Linked DNA regions of Homo sapiens: all the other regions are linked to region 2. The links come from fine-mapping of genetic effects on gene expression. A gene starts in region 2. Each other region holds a variant in brackets. All regions are shown on one strand. Distances are between the middles of the regions.

Region 1 (5,151 bases), 73 kb after region 2:
CAAGTGGTTATTTATATCCTATTAAGTACTATATACATCAACAGTATATAAATAATAGTCCCTGGCCAAGGCAAAGACATAATCTATTGCGTCTTCTGCTGGAAAAGAGAATTGCTCTTACCAGAATAAAGGACTGTGCTCCAAAGGTGAATTAATGTTTTCATCTCTATAGACTAAAAACTTGTCAATAACTTCCAAAAGCAAAAAACTCCTTAATGTCCTTTCTCTCCGTGGTGCCCAATTACTTGCACCTGCACACGGCATGCACTCATTGTTGGTGCTGCCAGTGTTCCAATCCCTTCTACTGAACCCTGCAATGCTCTCAGAGCCTGCTGCTCTTCTTTAGTTCACTTGGCAGTTAATATGATGTTGAAAACACCACCATTCATTAAGAGTGGAGGGGTACAGCACCATTGCTTTCAATTCAGATGGTCTGTGGTAGAGACTACAAGTGGTCACCTATTTCCATTCTTTCACTTTTGTGCACAGCACCAAAATCCCCAATATTTTTTAAGGCACGTGGCCATCAAGGATACAGTGTGACTGTCTGTGCTTCCCTTGCAGTTAGATGTGGGCATAAGATGACATCCTGGACAATGGATTGTGAACGAATGTGATGAGGCCATCTGCCAGGTTGTGTCCATGAGAGGAAGGTGTACACCCCTTTTGCCCTTTCTCCTTTCATAGAAGGAGGACAAGTTGCGGAAGAAGCCAATCTTCTAGGGAATCCAAGCAACCCAATCAAGGAAATCTGGATTTCTGACACCAGTACTCAGTGGCAGAAGTTCCCAAACACTCTCGTTTCATAGTATAGTGTCGCCATAATTTTTTCATATTGACTCTAGGCCAAAAGAATGCCTAAAAATTCTGTTTCTAGGCAGTTGTATCTAAGCAATTTGCTATGTCCTAACAACTTAGAAGTCATTTGAAAAAAAAATAATTCAAATACATTGAAAGAAAAAATACTGTTATTTCTATTCTTTTTTTTTTTTTTTTTTTTTTTTTTTTTTTTTTTTTTTGAGACGGAGTCTCTCACTTTCACCCAGGCTGGAGTGCAGTGGCGTGATCTCAGCTCACTGCAAGCTCTGCCTCCCAGGTTCACACCATTCTCCTGCCTCAGCCTCCCGAGCAGCTGGGACCACAGGCACCCACCACCACGCCTAACTAATTTTTTGTATTTTTAGTAGAGATGGGGTTTCACCATGTTAGCCAGGATGGTCTCGATCTCCTGACCTCATGATCCACCCACCTCAGCCTCCCAAAGTGCTGGGATTACAGGCGTGAGCCACCGCACCCAGCTCTTATTTCTGTTCTTAAATAACCACAATCACTTACTAGTGGGATGCGTGCACCTGTTGAGCACTGTACACCTTCTCAAACCTTGGGATCACATTGGGTAACAGTACTGTCATTTACTTGCATTTTATCAGACCAGCCACTGAAAACCCAGCTTTGCAAAGGTATGATATCATCAAAGAGAATGTAACAAGATCTGAGGTTTGAACTCTGAACTACCTCAAGCTAGTAATATGACAAATGTCAAGGTATCACTGAATTTTCTTTGAATAAGAAAAATTTACCATGGTATCCTGTGGTGCCTGGGTGCATAGTTTGGGAACCATGTCTGTGGAGCAACTATACTAGCTCTGGACTGTTTATATAAGAGAAAAATAAACTTCTATTGTCTTTAAACCACTATGATTTCAGAGCTTTAAGAGCACACTAATCTTATCTTATAGAAGGTTGAAACTATTAAGACAAAAGTGAAAATATGACTAGGCAGTTTAACCTGAAAGTTGCACATATACATTGACACCCCCAACCCCCTGCCCTGCGGTCACCTTCTGTTCCCCCAGGCCAGTCCTCTAAGTTGCATCCCTTTTCCTCTCATTTCTTTCCTTCTGCCTAGTAATTTGTTCCATTTCACTAGCTGCCGGCTCTCAGGGCAGCTGCCCTCCATGATCCCTGTGGCCTTTCCCTTCCAGAGACCCCTGTGTCTCTGCCCAAGCTGTGCCTTGTTGAAGGAGCTATATTTGCTTGTGTGGCAAACCCTGAGGCACGAGGGCCAGCTTTTCTCCCCTCACCACACATATGCCTTCTTAACT[T/C]AAGGGAAAAAATTCCATTCCCCTTCAGGGAACATTAAAGAAGTGGGGTAAAAAGCAAAGTTTTGGTTGCACGATAGGTTGAGTCCTCTAAACCACTTAAGAGGTATATTTCAAAATGAAGAAAGAATTTGAAGTACAAAGAATTAGTCAGGTATGAAAATCATTTAACCTTCGGCAAGCACCTAAAGCCAAACTCTATGGGGGTGCCCAACAGGCCGTGAGCTTGGAAGAGAAGTCGTTTCCTTCCCAAAGCTGACCTTTGAAAGTGAAGATGCTGCTCTAATATTACTTCTACTGGCCAGAGGGGGAAATGCCCAGTCAATGGATTCTGCAAAACTAGAGGAAACCAGGGCCCTGTGATATTGATTCTCTTCTAACTCCTACAGAGAAGTTTTCTCTCCACGTCTTTGTTTGAGACAGAGTCTTGCTCTCTCAACTAAGCTGGAATGCAGTGGCGAGATCATTCTCCCACCTCAGCCTCCCGAGTAGCTGGGACTACAGGCACACACAACCATGACCAGCTAATTTTTAAAATTCTTTGTGGAGATGTGCATTTACTATGTTGCTCAGGCTGGTCTCAAACTCCTAGCCTCAAGCCATCCTCCTGTCTGGACCTCCCACAGTGCTGGTATTATAGGCGTGAGCCACTGCACCCAGCCCTCTCCAAGTCTTAAGGCAAACTGTAGCCACTTTCCTCTTGAGGTAAAGTAGACATGGCCTCTTCCAGTTGACTTCTTCCAATATGTTTCAGTAGTTAGAAATTCAAATGAGATAGCAATCCATTCCCTCTGATGCTGGCTAGTAAGGCCAAAAGGAGTATTTCCAATGCTGTCAGATGTGTCAGCTTCTGTGAGGAGTTGAGTCCAGCAGAGGGTGTTTGATTTATGTAGTTCTAGACGGGGGGCATTTCTAGTAACTGAAATAGTTGAGAATCCTACTCTGAATCACTTCCCTAAGCCCCTTTTGTTTTAGTGCCATTCTTTGTTAAAGCCTAAGTCAGATTATTGGTTTCTTTTGAGCAGAAACTGCAACAGATAAGGCCTGTCTCCCTAAGCCAGATCCATGTGATCATTGCTTTTGATCTGACAGCTACTGGCAGGAGTGTAGCTAGTGCAGGTGATGTGGATTTCGCCCTGGTCAGTGACCCCCTACTTATACCTGACTAGCTCTCCCCAACCCCAACCCCAATCTTTGGTCTTTATTCCAAAAATGCAAACCTATTTAGATATCCAACTAAGCAGACATTAAATGGGAAGGAAAATACATTTTTGAAAAAAAGTATGATGACATGTTTCAAACCCAAGCCCTTTTTTCTCAGACAGTCCCCTGCTTCGGCATCCTGTCCACACGGCTAGTGTGTAATCCGTTGCTTGCTTACTGGTCTCCCTTCCTCCCTAGATCCTGAGCTCCATGAGGGCAGGAAGCATGGCATGGTTATCTCCTGCCTGACGCTCGCCACTTGGTGCATGATGAGTAAATGTTCATTTGATATGAATTCTCCCCTCACTGGCATGGCTTAGTGAAAGCTAAAGAAACAGAGTAAAGTAAGTGAAGTTCAGCTCATCCTCCCCATCCCCCCTCACTTCTCCTTTTTTCTTCCTTCCCCTGATGTCCTCATCTCTCTCCCTGTCTCAGAAGCACTGTCAGCTTCCATAAATTACAGGAATAAACACCTAAAGGTACCACTCTTGACCACATTCTGAGATTTGACCCAGACCTTGCTTTTTTGTTTTTTGGGTTTTTTTTTTGTTTTGTTTTGTTTTTTTGAGACACGCTTTTGTTCTGTCAGCCAGGCTAGAGTGCAGTGGTGTGATCATAGTTCATTACAGCCTCAACCTCCTGGGTTCAAGCAATCTTCCCACCTCAGCCCCCAGAGTAGCTGGGACTACAGGCCTGCTGTACATCTCCTGGCTAATTTTTAAATTGTATTATTACTTTTTGTAGCAATGGGGTCTTGCTATATTGCCCAGGCTGGTCTCGAACTCCTTGGCCCAAACAATCCTCCTGCCTTGGCCTCCCAAAGTGCTGGGATTACAGGTGTGAGCCACCATGCTCAGCCTGTCTTGGACCTTTGGCTGCAAAGTGCTGAGCACAGAGCCATGCAAGGGAAGGTGGGCAGGAAAGCTTGCACCATTTGTTGGTGGCACTGTGAGCACTCAAAATGATGTCCCCCTTTGACTACTGTGGTAGATGTCACTAATGTTCTCCTTTACCTCCTAGTAGAAAGAGAAATATCTTTTCTGCCCTTTCGAAGTTAGGTGTAACCATGTGACTTGCATTGGCATAAGAATTAAGAGCTTCCACACTTTGCCCCAGTCACAGTTGTCAGAGCAGTGCATACAAATGTGTTTTTAGACAGAGGTGCCACAAGAGCAAAGAATCCTGGATCATTGAGCTGTCACCTGAGGAGAGTCACCCTGACCCCCAATGAGCTTTGCATGTGCAAGAAATAAATATTTGTTGTTTTAAGCCACTACGAGTTTTGGAGATTGTTTGTTGCTAACAAATATCTTGGCCTATCCTGGCTGATATAACTACCTTCTGTACTTTGCTTACTCTGTCCATATTTCAATTGTTTATTAATCATAAGGTGCCCTGTGAAAGCAAAAGTCAGGCTAGTGGCTCTTATGGTCTTTAACAAATGTGATGGCAACATATCACTTTCAAAATTGTTCAAAAGGCTTCACTTGGGAAATGTGCCAGAGGGGAGCTATTGCTTTTCTTCATCTGCCCCTTTACTATACCCTCGCCTCCCACTTCCTTCCCACACATGGTGACCTGGGACACTTCATGTGAGATCTGCCGAATTTGGCCTCCACAACTCCAGAATCAACCTTCCCTTCTTTTCTTCATCTCACCTGAGCTGCCTCCACCTCACGACACTCTTCTCAGATGGGTGTTACAGAGGTGCCAGGAATTCTTCTAGAAGTAACTAACTCCTAGCACTTGTGAAATCAAAGCCCATGGACAACAAATTGCTCTCCATTTGTGGACACATGGCTTCCCTGAATGTGCAAGACAGATCTAATTCTCAATGGTTGCCTGG
Region 2 (5,151 bases):
CTGCTCCATGCATGGATGAGTTGGTGTGAAAATACGGCAGGAAATAACACAGGAAAGGTGTAAGTGCATCTAAAATCATATGTACATATTTGTGTAATGCTTGATGCATTACATGAGTGTTTTCAAGTAAAATATAGTGTTAATTTTAATAATGACCCACTCTGTAATAGTGAAATTTCTAACAATCTGAAAATTTGCAGTGGTGTTCTGGGTGGTTGTGTTACCTTTAACGTTGTTGATTTAAAGAGGAGTGTTACTTAGCTGCCTTAGAAACAGTTACAGCTGGGTGGCAGAGGGCACCAGGCAAGCTGACCCAGACACAATAAGAGCTACTGGAGAGAGCTGACTTCATCTAGGGAGGATGTAAGTGGACATTCTTTCATTCATCTAACAAATACTAACTGGTTGCCTAACATGTCTGTTTTGTTCATTGCTATATCCTCAGTGCTCAGAAAACCTCATTGCCCTGAAAAGGTTTATGTTGTAATAGGGGAGGCCGTTAATGTATAGACGTGTTTATCTTAGGTCATAGTTGCTACAAAGAAAAGTGAGACTGTGGGATGGACAGGGGATGGGAGGGAGGGAGGGAGATTATATTAGCATAATTAGTACCAGCTGCCTCAGCAATCTCTGAAATTTCAGTGGCTTAGTCGGACAAAGGATTTTTCTCTCACAAAGTATGATTGGGGTCGGTGACTCAGGGACCCAGGCTCCCTCTGTCTTCCGGTATCTCCAAGGAAGGAGAAGAAAGGAGGGATGGAAAGCCCCATGGTTCTGACCGAATGAAGCGATGATGTGGCATGGTGGATCTCCCGGGGAAGAGGGCTCCAGGGAGAGAGAAAAGCGAAGGCAAAAACTTCAGCAAGAAACGTGCTTGACTTGTCCCAAAAATAGCAAAGCAACCACTGTGGCTTCTTTCAGTGGAAAAGGGGGCTGGAAAGATAGCCAAGGGCCAGGCTATCTAAGGCCTCTCAGGCCAAGGGAGGAAGTAAGAAAATGCAATTGTTTGGGGTCATTTAGTGTCCCCTAAAAACTTTACAGAAGCATATGGGTGGTTATAATGATTGTGTAAACTAAACTGTGAATAATATGCTCCATTTTCTAGAGAAATCTTTACAAAATGTGTTACTGTATCTATTTCCCTGAGTGAACAGTTATAGGTTGTTAATACTGGAGCACAATTTTCTACATATCTAAGACCCTCTAGAGGTAGGGGTTTTCCTGCCACTAGTGGCCATAGGGCCAAACATCATGACAGCCTGTCCTCATCCTTCTGGAAGCCTGATGCGCGGCAAGCACAGAGGCCTCCCACTGGACTCCTACAAAGTAAGCACCTGCAGACGCCCATGCCCCAGTGCTACAAACAACCTTGGACACCCAATAATTCCTCAACCACCATTTCTACAGAGTAGCTCAACCAGTCTGTAAAAAATCATCACCTTAAACTCCTGGAATTTTCACACCTGAAATAAGCCCAAAGTTACTGTACTTAACTCTAATCTAAAAAGTAACTACTAAACGAACAGAAGGGGCGAAACTAAATTTATTTATCTTACATATTCTAGGTTAGCTTTTCAGAAGTAAAATGAGTCATATTCTAGAGGTTTAGTTAATGTGGACTTCATGTTTCTGACCACATGAAATGTTGGCATTGAAATTCAATGATCCCTGTTGCTTACTGTGAGAATAGTCAAAACCCAGAATTTTCAGCTAAAAATGTAATTTAGAATATGCTTACTGAATTGAATTAAGGTTTTGCATTAGGATAAACACTGTGGGAGTGATTCTGGTATAGTGGGTTTGTGTTTTTGTGCAAGATGCTTACAATACCACAGCCCTTAGAATAATTGTACACTCTTCTGGCCCGTTTCCCAGGTTTCCTTGAAAAGGGTCAGAGGACAGGCTGAAATTAATGACACATGAATGCAGAACCTCAATTAGAAGTGTCTTCAAAGGAATAATTAGGCTAGACTTAATAAGAGGGGATTAAGAGAAGAAAAAGCTTTGGGCAAATTATACACTGAAGGAAAGGAAGATAGGAAACAAGGCAACGATAGATTGGAGCTGATTATTTCAGGAAGTGATTTTTGTTCTATTTATCTTAAAAATAATATAAATATAGTGAGACATAGAGACAACAGATGGATGGATGGTCACTGACCTCTTACTAGGAGTGGCAATGTGAACATTGGGACGCTTCCTGGTGCATGTACCCTGCAATTGTTAGTTTAGTACCCCTATTCCCTTTGTGAAAGAGGCCAGGGATTTTGCTTCCCCCAAATAACAGTAACAGCAGCAAAAGCAGCAACAAACCCTTCAAATCTGCTTACCCTGCCAGATATTGTTTCACTTTCCTCATCTGTAAAATAGGGATTACTTTATGATGGAATCCCCACAACAACCCCCGGAGGTAGGTACGATATAAGTGCCTTGTTCCAGGTCATACAGCTAGGTAGTGTCAGAACACAGATTGAAATTCAGAAGCCTGGCTCCGAAGTTTGAGCTCTCATTCACCGCACTACATATATCTATGGGAGGATAGGCGACACATGCATGTAATAAATGTGTGAGCATTTATTGTACTGGAAACTCTCCAGCTCCTCCCTCTCTACATGATCCTTTGCTTCTAATTTTGTCAATCACAGCACCTTCCCTGGCCCTTACTTTGTTCTTGCCAATCTCCTCTCCTTGAGCAGAAGAGGGAAGGGAGCCTGCTCTGTAGGTGAACAGCTCCTCCGCAGAGGCATCCTGTTTTCTTAGTGCAATCACTAATTCGCATTGCAAAATGCTTTATTACATGACTGGGTTGCCATTCTAGGAGCATTCACTGAGCGCTCAGAGTGGGAACGTTTATCAGGCATGCAAATGCTAACTTACTTTCTAGAGAATGTTTAACTTAAAAGCCTAAAGAAATCTCAGATAATTCACTTCGGAGTAGAAACCTCCTTCAGCCGCGCTCACTACGGCGCCCGGCTTCGCGGCACCGGCCACTAGAGGGCAGTGGCCGCCGCAAAGCCGACGCGGGCGGTGGGCTCGGCGGCTCGGCCATCGCTTGCTCTCGCCTGGCAAGGGGCTCTCGGCCGTGGATTAGCGCAGCTGGAGACGTGGGAGGCCGCGGGCCCCGCCCCCGACCGGCGGCGGCTGCGGCGGCCCAGCGCGGCAGTCGGCGCTGCGAAGTGGAGGCGCTGCGAGCGGAGCCGCGCGGAGGGCGCGACCGGCTGGTCCGGGCAGCGTGGGTTTGCCGCCTTCGGGGCTCCAGTCCGCGCGCCAGGGCTCGAGCAGTACCGCGGGCCCCTCAGGTGGGCCTCGGCTCGGGACGCCGGGAGTCGGGACCGCCAGTCGGGGCGCCGGGACCATGGCGCTGCGCGCCCGGGCGCTGTACGACTTCAGGTCGGAGAACCCAGGAGAGATCTCGCTGCGAGAGCACGAGGTGCTGAGCCTGTGCAGCGAGCAGGACATCGAGGGCTGGCTCGAGGGGGTCAACAGCCGCGGCGACCGCGGCCTCTTCCCGGCCTCCTATGTGCAGGTGATCCGCGCCCCCGAGCCTGGCCCGGCGGGAGACGGCGGCCCGGGCGCCCCGGCCCGCTACGCCAATGTGCCCCCCGGGGGCTTCGAGCCCCTGCCTGTCGCGCCCCCCGCCTCCTTCAAGCCGCCGCCTGACGCCTTCCAGGCGCTGCTGCAGCCACAGCAGGCGCCGCCTCCGAGCACCTTCCAGCCGCCCGGCGCGGGCTTCCCGTACGGCGGGGGCGCCCTGCAGCCGTCGCCTCAGCAGCTCTACGGCGGCTACCAGGCCAGCCAAGGCAGCGATGATGACTGGGACGACGAGTGGGACGACAGCTCCACGGTGGCGGACGAGCCGGGCGCTCTGGGCAGCGGAGCATACCCGGACCTCGACGGCTCGTCTTCGGCGGGTGTGGGCGCAGCCGGCCGCTACCGCCTGTCCACGCGCTCCGACCTGTCCCTGGGTTCCCGCGGCGGCTCGGTCCCCCCGCAGCACCACCCGTCGGGGCCCAAGAGCTCGGCCACCGTGAGCCGCAACCTCAATCGCTTCTCCACCTTCGTCAAGTCCGGCGGGGAGGCCTTCGTGCTGGGGGAGGCGTCAGGCTTCGTGAAGGACGGGGACAAGCTGTGCGTGGTGCTGGGGCCCTATGGCCCCGAGTGGCAGGAGAACCCCTACCCGTTCCAGTGCACCATCGACGACCCCACCAAGCAGACCAAGTTCAAGGGCATGAAGAGCTACATCTCCTACAAGCTGGTGCCCACGCACACGCAGGTGCCGGTGCATCGGCGCTACAAGCACTTCGACTGGCTGTACGCGCGCCTGGCGGAGAAGTTCCCGGTCATCTCCGTGCCCCACCTGCCCGAGAAGCAGGCCACCGGCCGCTTCGAGGAGGACTTCATCTCTAAGCGCAGGAAGGGCCTGATCTGGTGGATGAACCACATGGCCAGCCACCCAGTGCTGGCGCAGTGCGACGTCTTCCAGCACTTCCTGACGTGCCCCAGCAGCACCGACGAGAAAGCCTGGAAGCAGGGCAAGAGGAAGGCCGAGAAGGACGAGATGGTGGGCGCCAACTTCTTCCTGACCCTTAGCACGCCCCCCGCCGCTGCCCTTGACCTGCAGGAGGTGGAGAGCAAGATCGACGGCTTCAAGTGCTTCACCAAGAAGATGGACGACAGCGCGCTGCAGCTCAACCACACGGCCAACGAGTTCGCGCGCAAGCAGGTGACCGGCTTCAAAAAGGAGTATCAGAAGGTGGGCCAGTCCTTCCGCGGCCTCAGCCAGGCCTTTGAGCTGGACCAGCAGGCCTTCTCGGTGGGCCTGAACCAGGCTATCGCCTTCACCGGAGATGCCTATGACGCCATTGGCGAGCTCTTCGCGGAGCAGCCCAGGCAGGACCTGGATCCCGTCATGGACCTATTAGCGCTGTATCAGGGGCATCTGGCTAACTTCCCGGACATCATCCACGTTCAGAAAGGTAAAGCCTGGCCCTTAGAGCAGGTGATATGGAGTGTATTGTGCAGGCTGAAAGGGGCGACTTTGACAGCAGTACCACTGTGGGTTTCAGAATCATATTCTACAGGTGAGGAAGCGAGCAGAGACGTGGACGCCTGGGTCTTTTCCCTAGAGTGTAAGTTGGATTGCTCGACAGG
Region 3 (5,151 bases), 98 kb after region 2:
GGTGCTCATGCCTTCAAGGGCAGGTGGGTACCAATGTGAGATGTTGGGTATGCCATAATTGGGAAATACTGGGCTGACGGCAACTTGGGTAGCAGCAAAAACTCTGCCTATAGGGATTATCTTAGTTCGTTTTATGCTTCTATAACAGAATTCCTGAAACTACGTAATTTATAAGAACAGAGATTTATTTCTTACAGTTCTAAAGATTGGGACGTTCAAGGTTGAAGGGCTGGCATCTGGCAAGGGCTTCTCGGTGCATCATCCCATGAAGGAAGGCAGAAGGTCAAGAGATCACGCACATGAGAGAAAGAGGGAAGGGGCTGAACTCATGCTTTTATCCGGAAGCCACTCCTGCAATACAGGCCTTAATCCATCCAGGAGGGCTCTGCCTCTTCACCCTCATGACCTACTCATCTCTTAAAGGTCTCACCTCTCAGTGCTGTTGCATTGGGGATGTTTCCAACACAAGAACTTTGGAGGACACATTCAAACCCAAGCAGGAATTTAAATTTGATTCAAAATGCTGGTGGCTATAGTTTGTTGTCCCAGATGAAAGTGTGAACTTCTTGTTTTAATCAATCAGTAAAAGGCTAAGGCCCTCTTTTTTTGTTGTTTGTTTTTTTGAGACGGAGTTTTGCTCTTGTTGCCCAGGCTGGAGTACAATGGTGCGATCTCGGCTCACTGCAACCTCCGCCTCCTGGGTTCAAGTGATTCTCCTGCCTCAGCCTCCCGAGTAGCTGGGATTATAGGCATGTGCCACCATGCCCTAATTTTGTATTTTCAGTAGAGATGGGGTTTCTCCATGTTGGTCAGGTTGGTCTCGAACTCCCGACCTCAGGTGATCTGCCTGCCTCGGCCTCTCAAAAGTGCTGGGATTATAGGCGTGAGCCACTGCACTCTTTTAAGAACCCAAGTTTGGTGTTCTGAGGTGAAGGGCTGCATGAGATAAGAATATGGTTGGGATAATTTTGAGCATGTTCTTCATTAGCAAAAGAAATGTTTCTCCTGAACAAAAGTTGCCAAGGGCATTGAAGTTAAAATGTTTTGATAAAGATAACGGAAAGCAGTCCTGCCAGCCCATTGGCCATCATGGTTCTCAAAGACTTAGGGAGGAGAAAAAACTTTGGAGCTGGAATCTGCAATTCTGTTGTTGGTTCTGGGTCTAGAAATGGAAAACTAGGCCCTGCTGGAAACAAAAAGAGCATCTCCCTGATAAGACCAGCAGGCAGATAAGAGGGGTTTGTGGGGTTTTATTAGGCTCAGAAGCCTCAGAGCTAAACTTCTAGATTTTAAAACAGTTTAGAGTAAGATTTATGGAACAAGATCAGTGATTAGTAATCTGTAATTATAGTGAGATAAAGTACTACTTGTATAATATACATGTTCTTTCTAAGAATTCATAAGCAAGGAAAAATAATGAGAAAGATTTAAGGGCCAGGTGCAGTGGCTCATGACTGTAATCCCACCACTTTGGGAGGCTGAGACAGGTAAATTGCTTGAGCTCAAGAGTTCAAGATCAGCCTGGGCAACATGGCAAAACCCCATCTCTACAAAAAAATAAAGAAATAAAAATTAGCCAGTCGTGGTGGTGTGTGCCTATAGTCCCAGATACTCACTCTGGAGGCTGAGGTGGGAGGATCACTTGAGCTCAGGAGGTGGAAGTTGCAGTGAGCCAAGATCACATCAGTCAAGCCTGGGTGATTAAATCTTTTAAAAATATTTAAAAGACATAGACACTAAAAATAAAATTAGTTGAGTATTCTATTCCAGGTACTGTCTTAAGCACTAACTTAAACTGTCGTACACACTAACTTAAACTTCTTAACAACACCCTAAGAAAAAGGTATAATTATTCACATTTTACAGATGAGGACATTGAGGATCAGAGAGATTAAGAAACTTGTCCAACTCACCCAACCAGTACATGACTCTAGGAAACATACTCCTTCTGCTTTGGTTTTTATGGAAAAAACATTATAGATGGAGGGGATGTTCAGGGCTCTGGAGCTTCAGTTAGAGAGGTCTGGGAGGAAGCCTGACCCTTGTGGGATCCATTTTGGTCTAACAATACGATCATTCATGTTCCAAGCCAAAATTGTAGTAGGTAAAATATTTTTGTCTCTCGACTTCCAGATGTCTACCAGGTAAAGAGAAAATTCTTGAGCATGATCTAGAAGGTTCTGTCTAGTTCCCAGCTACAATTCTAGCCTGTCTCCTCTCTCACATGCCTGTAGTCTACCCACCCTAGACTAGCTTCTCATCCTCTGGGCTTGTGCCCCTACTGCTTCCCTTTGCTGGGTGTACCCCAAGTCTGCCTCATGCATTCCTACTCTCTTTTAAAAATCCAGCTTGGGTCATCTCCTCTGTAAGGATGTTCTACCCTTGCCCCCTCACTTCCCAGTCTGATAGACAGACTTAGTCACTGCTTTCATGCTCTCAAACCCCACTGCCTATTTCTCTTAGCGATATCTTTGCATTGTATCACAATGTGTGTTTCAGTCTGATGCATCTTAAGATTTTTAAATGCTTCTGAAAATACAGTGCCTATCTTGGGTATGCCACCTAGTTTGGGCTTTAACCAAATGTTTCTAGACTCTACAAGAGTGCACAATCCTTCAGTTAATAGGGTAGCTCTGGAGGAAAAAAATGTGCATGATCCTCAGACAAAGCACATGTTATTTGTATCTTCAATAACAGGTGCTTTGCCAATTAGCACAGTTCATGTCAGAATTGTTTCTTACAGGTGAAATTAGTGGCATGTTGATTAACATGATGAAAGTTAGAAATGGGATCTGTTTGGTGAATATAAAGATAAGTAGACTAGTTAAAAGAGCTTAGAGACTCTCCACTCTTGCATGAATAAAATATCCAGCACTCTTAGAATGATGCCTTTACCTGGTCTTGGGCCTAGCCATAAACTGTGGGAGATTCTGGTTGCTCAATGCTGGCTAAACTGGCAGCATTATTCTGCCTCTGGAATCCCAGAAATTGTCTTAGAGAACTTTGCAAGGAAGATTATATGAACCACTTTTTTGCTTGCTCACTAACAAATATTTAGTTAACAAGCGTCTGTGTATGCAGCAGAATTTGGCCAGTGGCTTGCTTTGTTCATGATTGTGTAACATTTGTGGAGAAGAATAGCTAGCAGTTCTGACTTAACAACTCCTAGGTTGCAATCATCC[G/A]CACATGACCTATCTGGCTCGGGTCAGTTTTCAACACCCACTCACTGGAGTGTGTCCATACTGCTTCCCTATTTTCCAGGTGGTTCTTATCTATTTAATAACAACTTACTTCTTCAGGAGAAATAGACTATGCATTATTACATTAACTATTCACTCTGATTGTAAAACCACATCCCAATTTCAAAAGTATTAAAAGATTAAAGAAATGTGCATCTTGGCCAGGCACGGTGGCTCACACCTGTAATCCCATCACTTTGGGTGGCTGAGGCAGGTGGATCACCTGAGGTCAGGAGTTCGAGACTGGCCAATATGGTGAAACCCTGTGTCTACTAAAAATACAAAAAATTAGCCAGGCGAAGTGGCAGGCGCCTGTAATCTCAGCTACTAGGGAGGCTGAGGCACGAGAATCTCTTGAATCCAGGAGGCCGATATGGCAGTAAGCCAAGATCATGCCACTGCACTCCAGCCTGGATGACAGAGCAAGACTCCATCTCAAAAAAGAAAAAAAAAATGTGCATCTTAGAATAAAAGCAAACACAATGTCAGATCTCCCTTCATAACTTGCCTGTGTTTTAACCAGGTGCTCACTGCCTAAACTCAGATGCAAGGTAACTGTGGGGTTTCTTTTCCTGTGCTGGGACAAGCCAATGGGAGATATTTGGGGACAGGGAAGTCTCTCCAGGGCCCCTGCAATCACATCAAGCTGGTTTTTATCTCTGAGTCACAGACTTAACTTTCTTCCCCTAGTTCCTTCGACATGAAGGAGGTCTCTTGATTTTGAGATATAAACACTGAGGCAATGAATGAGAGTAAACAACTTCGTCAAAGGCCCCTTCAAAGAAAGTCAGTGGTAAAGCAAAACACACCAGCAGTGTTCCAACTCTCAGTTAATTCACCAGTGAAGCCGCAAGGCCTCTCCTTTCCATGGGCTCCAGCATAAAGCATTTTGACAGATGAATTCCTGACCTGAACAATTCCTTGCCTTTAAAATTCATAAAAGCATAGCAGAACAGAACAGAACAGAATATTGAGTGCAAATAAACCTGTCCACTAGTAGTTCTTATAGCTCCTGTTTGGTTCCACAGGAAAACAACAAGTGAAAACATGCTTTTTACTACTCTATAGAAAATATTTCCTTAGAAAGCAAGGTAGAAATGGTGTACTTCCCCCTCCCAAGTAAAACTTCTCAAAATTTTCAGTTTTCAGATTCTCCTTGTCTGTCAGTGGCATTACTAAAGATGTCCTGTGTTCAACAGAGAATTGAAATAGACTGTGGGAGGGATGGAGAGAGGCGTGCTAAAGAGACAGAAAATATGGTTTTGACCCTCAAGAAACACAAGTTGTAGATTAGGAGATACACCACAAAGAAGATAATTATAGCACTGAGTGAAGTTCTGGAAAGGATTTGTTCATGTCTCTGTTGATGAATCTCTCTTTTTTCCCCTCTCTCTTTTTCTTTTTTTTAAAATAGAGACAGATGTCTCGCTATGTTGCCCAGCCTGGTCTCCAACTCCTGGCTTCAAGCAATTCCTCCTGCCTCGGCCTCTCCAAGTGCTGGGATTACAGGAATTAGCCACCATGCTCATTCTCCATTGACTAATCTGTTAATAGTCCTATCTTTGGGTAAGGTCAACCATGGAGAAAATGCTGGAAGAGGTAAGGTCTAAATTGGGGGATGCGAGGATTATGATGGAGGAAGGGGAACAGCATTCCAGGGTGACATAGTTTGGTTGTGTCCCCATCCAAATCTCATCTTGAATTGTAGTTTCCATAATCCCCACATGTCATGGGAGGGACCCAGTAGGAGGTAATTGAATCACAGGGGCCATTACCCACATGCTGCTGTTCTCATGATAGTGAGTTCTCATGAGATCTGATGGTTTTGCAAGGCTTTTCCCCCTTTGCTTGGCACTTCTCTCGCCTGCCGCCATGTGAAGAAGGATGTGTTTGCTTCCCCTTCTGCTATGAT
Region 4 (5,151 bases), 90 kb after region 2:
GGATAGTAGTGATGGTTGTGCAACATTGTAAATATGCTTAATGTCACCGAATTGTATACTTTAAAAAATGGTTAAAATGGCAAAATTTGTGATGTATATTTTGCCACAATAAACAGACAAACCAAAAATGACATGCTGGTAAGGTAAGAGGATGACTGGATATTGATTTTAGATTGGATGTCTAGGGATGGCCTTTCTGAGGAGTGTCATCCACGCTGAGATCTGAATGTCAAGAATAAGAAAGAGGTAAGGCACAATCAGAAGGAAAAGCAGTCCCCGAATATGAAACTGTAAGATCAAATACCTGAAGGTAGACACAGGCTGGATATTGGAGGAACAGAAAGGAGACCCTCTGGTCTTCCTCTGGTGGAGGAAGTGTGAGGGGTGGTGAGTGATCAAAATGTAAGATCTAAGATGTAAGCAGGAGACTTTTTCCAGTCAGCATGAGGGCTGACTTCTACTGGACTTTATTCTACCTTAATAGGAACTCTCTGGGGGATTTTAAGCAGTTGAGTAACATGAGAAGGAGGAAATATATCCTGTTTTGGGCAATTTTAGATGGATTCATAGTGGTAACATTTTACCTGGGACTTAAGTCATAGACATTCATGGGGAGGAAAGCTAGCAAAATTGTTCCAGAGTAGTACCAGCAGAGACTCAGAGTTAGGGGTTTAGACTTTTTTTTAAAAAAAGCAATATTTAATTTGAAGATCTTAGAAAATGTAAAGCCACGCTTATCACAGTAGTGTGTTACGTACCAGGAACCACGTGGGCCATAGAGTAATCATCTTCTTGGAGTAAATTTTGCTCAGATTACTGAACTTTTTTACATAATTTTAACTAATTTTTTAGTTGAAAACAATGTTTTTTAAAAAGTTTAATTATATGTTTTATTTAACCCAAGATATCCAGAATAGTATTATTTTAACATAATCAACATAAAAATTATTGAGATTTTTTATGATCAATTTTGAAACTTATTTATTTATTTTTGAGGCAGGGTCTTGCACCGTCACCCAGGCTGGAGTGCAGTGGCACTATCGCAGCTCACTGAAGCCTCGAACTCCTGGGCTCAAGGGATCCTCCTGCCTCAGCCTCTCAAGTAGCTAGGACTACAGGCATGTGCCAACACACCCAGCTAAATCTAAAAACTTTTTTTTGTAGAGACAGGGTATCACTTTGTTGACCAGGCTAATCTTGAACTTCTGGGCTCCAGCAATTCTCCTGCCTCTGCCTCCCAAAGCGTTTGGATTATGGGTGTGAGCTACCACGCCCATCCTAATTTTGACACTTTAAAAAAATGTCACCACTTTTTAACAGTCATTTCTTCCTTTCCTTTGAATTGTGGTAAAATACACACAGTATAAAATTCAATATTGAAAATCATACTTTTATATTGCAATAAATAAAGATGTATTATGCAGTGTAATGTACTATTTGTATAGATTTTCCAGGCGTTTCAGGTTTTGGATGGCTGCCTGTGGCTACACACCAGACATCCATCCATTCATACATCTACTCTCATCTATTGTTAAGGAACATTTCATTAAAAAAGTTTGTGAATGACTGAATTGTAAATGACATCCCTGTATAAATGGTTATCAGATAATTCTTATATGAATCTTCTTTTGCTATTGATTCATCTATCATAAAAATAATCAGTTTTCAAGTTATTAGGCTGCCTCTGAATTTTATCTTGCCTTTCTTTGTATTTCCAGGTTAGTCCCTCTAAACATTTACCCAACTTTTGGTCTTTATGATAATGAAGACATCTGACCTCTGGTTGGCCATTGGATTGTTGAAGAGGACTTCGGGAGACCAGGTGGTTCACTGGGTCAGTTGGCTCAATTCAGAGGCATTCACTCATTCTTGCTCTTCGTCCCACCCCAGAGTGTCCTGTAATCTGAATGAACTCTCCCTCTCTGATCTAAGCATTTTTCGATTTGCAATTTTCATGGAGATAATTCTAGGTTTATATGCAATTTTAAGAAATCAGACGGCTAGATCTCGTGTATTCTTCACCCAGTTTCTCCCAATGTAACATTTTACAAAACATTAGTATAATATCACAACCAGGAGATTGACATTACTACAATCCATCCATCTTTTTCAGATTTTCCCAGCTTTATTTGTACTCACGTGTGTGTATGTGTGAAAATTGCACAG[T/G]TCCATAAAATGTTATCACCTGTATAGGTTTGTGTATCCACCACCACAGTCAAGATACTGACAGTTCCAACATCACAAGGATCCCTTATTTTGCCCATTTACAACCACTCCTACCTTCCTCACCCACCCCATCCCTATACCCTGGCAACCATTAACAAATATGTCCTCCAGTTTTGAAATGTCATTTCAAAAATGTTATATAAATGGATGCATACAGTATGCATTCTTTTGAGAAAGGCCTTTGTGTGGTTCCTGGGTAATAATAATGAGTCTGACTCCATTTTCTGATGTTTGCTAGTAGCTTTTATACCCCACTCTTCTCATTTCCCATTTTGCCCCACATCTGGGCAAGCTGATAAGAAAGCCTGGGTTCTTCTGTTGGCACTGAGATTCCAACCATGTGGGCCCCCGCCTGTGTGCAGGAACCCTCACCCCAGCCCCACTCCCCAACGCCTAAGAAAACTTCAAGTCAGTTTTCTTTCCCTGCTCTCTTACGCTGTTTTTGGACCTGTTTGGGAAGCTTTCCCAGCTGTCTCCAGAAAACCTCATTATGTGCGTAATAAACCTTTTCACACTCTTTCGATGTCTATCTGGTGTCATCATTTGAACCATAGTTTAGGTGGGAATTTATCCTATTTCTACAGAATGGCTACAATAACATAATTCTTGGATATTTATCCAATTTGTTGCCTGTATAGTATTCCATGGTAGGTATGCATCACAATTTGTTTAACCATTCACCTGTTGAAGGACATTTCTGGCCTTTCCACTTTTTAGCTATTACAAATAAAGCTGCTATGGGCCAGGCACTGTGGCTCATGCCTGTAGTCTCAGCACTCTGGGAGGCCGAGGCAGGCGGATCACTTGATGTCGGGAGTTCGCGACCAGCCTGGACAACATAGCAAAGCCCCATCTCCACAAAAAAATACAAAAATTAACCGGGCGTGGTGGTGGATGCCTGTAGGTCCAGTTACTCAGGAGGCTGAGGCAGGAGAATTGCTTGAACCTGGGAGGCAGAGTTTGCAGTGAGCCAAGATCATGCCACTGCACTCCAGCCTGGGTGACCGAGCAAGACTGTCTCAAAACAAACAAACAAACAAACAAACAAAAATAAAGCTGCTGTAAACTTCATGTGCAGGGTTTTATGTGAACATAAGTTTTCCTTTCCCTGTGATTAAATGCCCAGGAGTTCAATTGCTAGGTCATATGGTACTTACATAATTGCTTTTTAAAGAGACTGCCAAACTATTTTCCAGAGTAGTTGTACCATTTTGTGTTCCTATCAGCAATGTTTGAGGGATCCAGTTTCTCTGCATCCTCATCAGCATTTTATATGGTCACTATCTTTTTCTTTAGCCTTTCTGATAGGTGTGTGGTCATATTATGGCTTTAATTTGGCTTTCCCTAACGGCTAATGGTACTGAACATCTTTTCATGTGCTTATTTGCCATCCGTATAGCCTCTTTGGTGAAATGTCTCTTCATGTCTTTTGCCCATTTTCTAATATGAACTGTGCTTTTTATTTTTTATTTTATTGTATTATTTTTAAAGTTTTCTTATTTAAAAATAGAAATGGGATCTCACTATGTTGCCCAAGCTGGTCTTGAACTCCTGGGCTCAAGTAATCCTCCCACCTTGGCCTCCCAAAGTGCTGGAATTACAGGCATAAGGCACCACACCCAGCCGCCATGCTTTTTAAATAATGGATTGTGACCTGTTTGTGTACTGACAAGTACTTACTGGGATATGGAGATAGCCTGAGCTGTTTAAATAGTGTTATGAAATCAGTGTTGAAATAAACAGTTGAAGAAGGAAGGATGACTGGTGTGTCTGTGTGGGGGTGTATATGTGTATGCATAGTTGTGTACGACTGTAGCAGGTATTAATCTTAGTTCCCTATATTCAAGTGTGCATCACTTTATTTTCTTTAAATCATCTGAGTACCCATCCTCCTAGGCTGGTGGGAAATTCACACTCAGCCCTTGGTGTCTCTCCCTGCCCTCCAAAGTGTGTAAAGGTCATTAGGTCTTATTAAACACTCTGGCACAGGGAAGACTGTCACTCTAGTTTACAGCTGTGGGTCCACACTGTTTTCCACTAAAGCACCAGTCCATTGTCCCAACCTGTATATCTCATGCTGGGCAGCTCAGCTGCTAATTCCCCGTTCTTAGTGCATAGGACTCTGTGATGAGGTTGGGAGCATCTAATCTCCCATGTTTCCTCACAGCCTCTGAGGTCTTGACACCTTCTCACAGTCCAGTAGAAATTTCTGCAATGATGGAAATGTTCCATAACTACTCTGTCCAGTATGGTAGCCACTAGACATATGAGGCTATAGAGCACTTAAAATGCAGCTAGTGCCACCGAGGAGCTGAATTTTTAATTATATTTAATTTTAATTAATTTAGAACTTTAAAACCACACATGGATATTAACTATTGAGGTGGGCAGTACAGCCTAGGGGGTACTGCCACATTCTTGGTTATGATTTATCCTTCTCTTTTGGCTTTCTAACACCTGAAGAAAATCTCTCTTCCTTTCTTGTTGTCCCCAAAACACATCTTATCTCTCCTTGGGGACGTCATCCGCAATCTCTATGATGGTATTCATTTTCTATTTATTTACTTATTTATTTATAATATCTTATTTTTAGAGTCAGAGTCTTGCTATGTTGCTCAGGCTGGCCTCCAACTTCTGGCCTCAAGTGATCTCCCACCTCAGCCCCCTAAAGCTTAATTTTCATAAAAAACTGAAAAAGCCTCAAATCCTTCTATTTGTCCCACCCTGCAAAAGGGCTGAGATAAAAAAAATGCCAAGGATTTGGCTACCTCCTTGAAATTGAAAAGAAAGAAGTATAGGGAAGACAAACGTGAGCCAATATGTCAATAAATTGCCATGCCGTGGTGATATAGTTTGGATGTTTGTCCCTGCCCAAATCTCATATTGAAATGTAATCCCCCACATTGGAGGTGGAGCGTGGTGGGA

Evidence for each region. PIP is the estimated chance that this variant, and not a neighbour inherited with it, causes the effect.
Region 1: its variant is the best candidate, but not a certain one, in a credible set for the expression of SNX18 in thyroid (GTEx, PIP 0.65).
Region 3: its variant is the best candidate, but not a certain one, in a credible set for the expression of SNX18 in whole blood (TOPMed, PIP 0.72).
Region 4: its variant is the best candidate, but not a certain one, in a credible set for the expression of SNX18 in whole blood (INTERVAL, PIP 0.60).

The regions. Positions count from the first base shown.
Region 1 is chr5:54,587,327-54,592,477 of GRCh38, forward strand. It overlaps a transcript of SNX18 not described here. Among named protein-coding and RNA genes, the nearest start is that of SNX18, 72 kb to the left of the region's middle. The variant T/C (reference allele first, on the strand shown) is at 2,106.
Region 2 is chr5:54,514,598-54,519,748 of GRCh38, forward strand. SNX18 (sorting nexin 18) reads left to right here and starts at 3,162. Exons shown (of 2, transcript NM_001102575.2): 1 at 3,162-4,976. The coding sequence starts at 3,356. RefSeq lists silencers at 2,916-3,157, 3,038-3,597 and an enhancer at 4,070-5,014.
Region 3 is chr5:54,613,093-54,618,243 of GRCh38, forward strand. It overlaps a transcript of SNX18 not described here. Among named protein-coding and RNA genes, the nearest start is that of SNX18, 98 kb to the left of the region's middle. The variant G/A (reference allele first, on the strand shown) is at 3,183.
Region 4 is chr5:54,604,685-54,609,835 of GRCh38, forward strand. It overlaps a transcript of SNX18 not described here. Among named protein-coding and RNA genes, the nearest start is that of SNX18, 90 kb to the left of the region's middle. The variant T/G (reference allele first, on the strand shown) is at 2,167.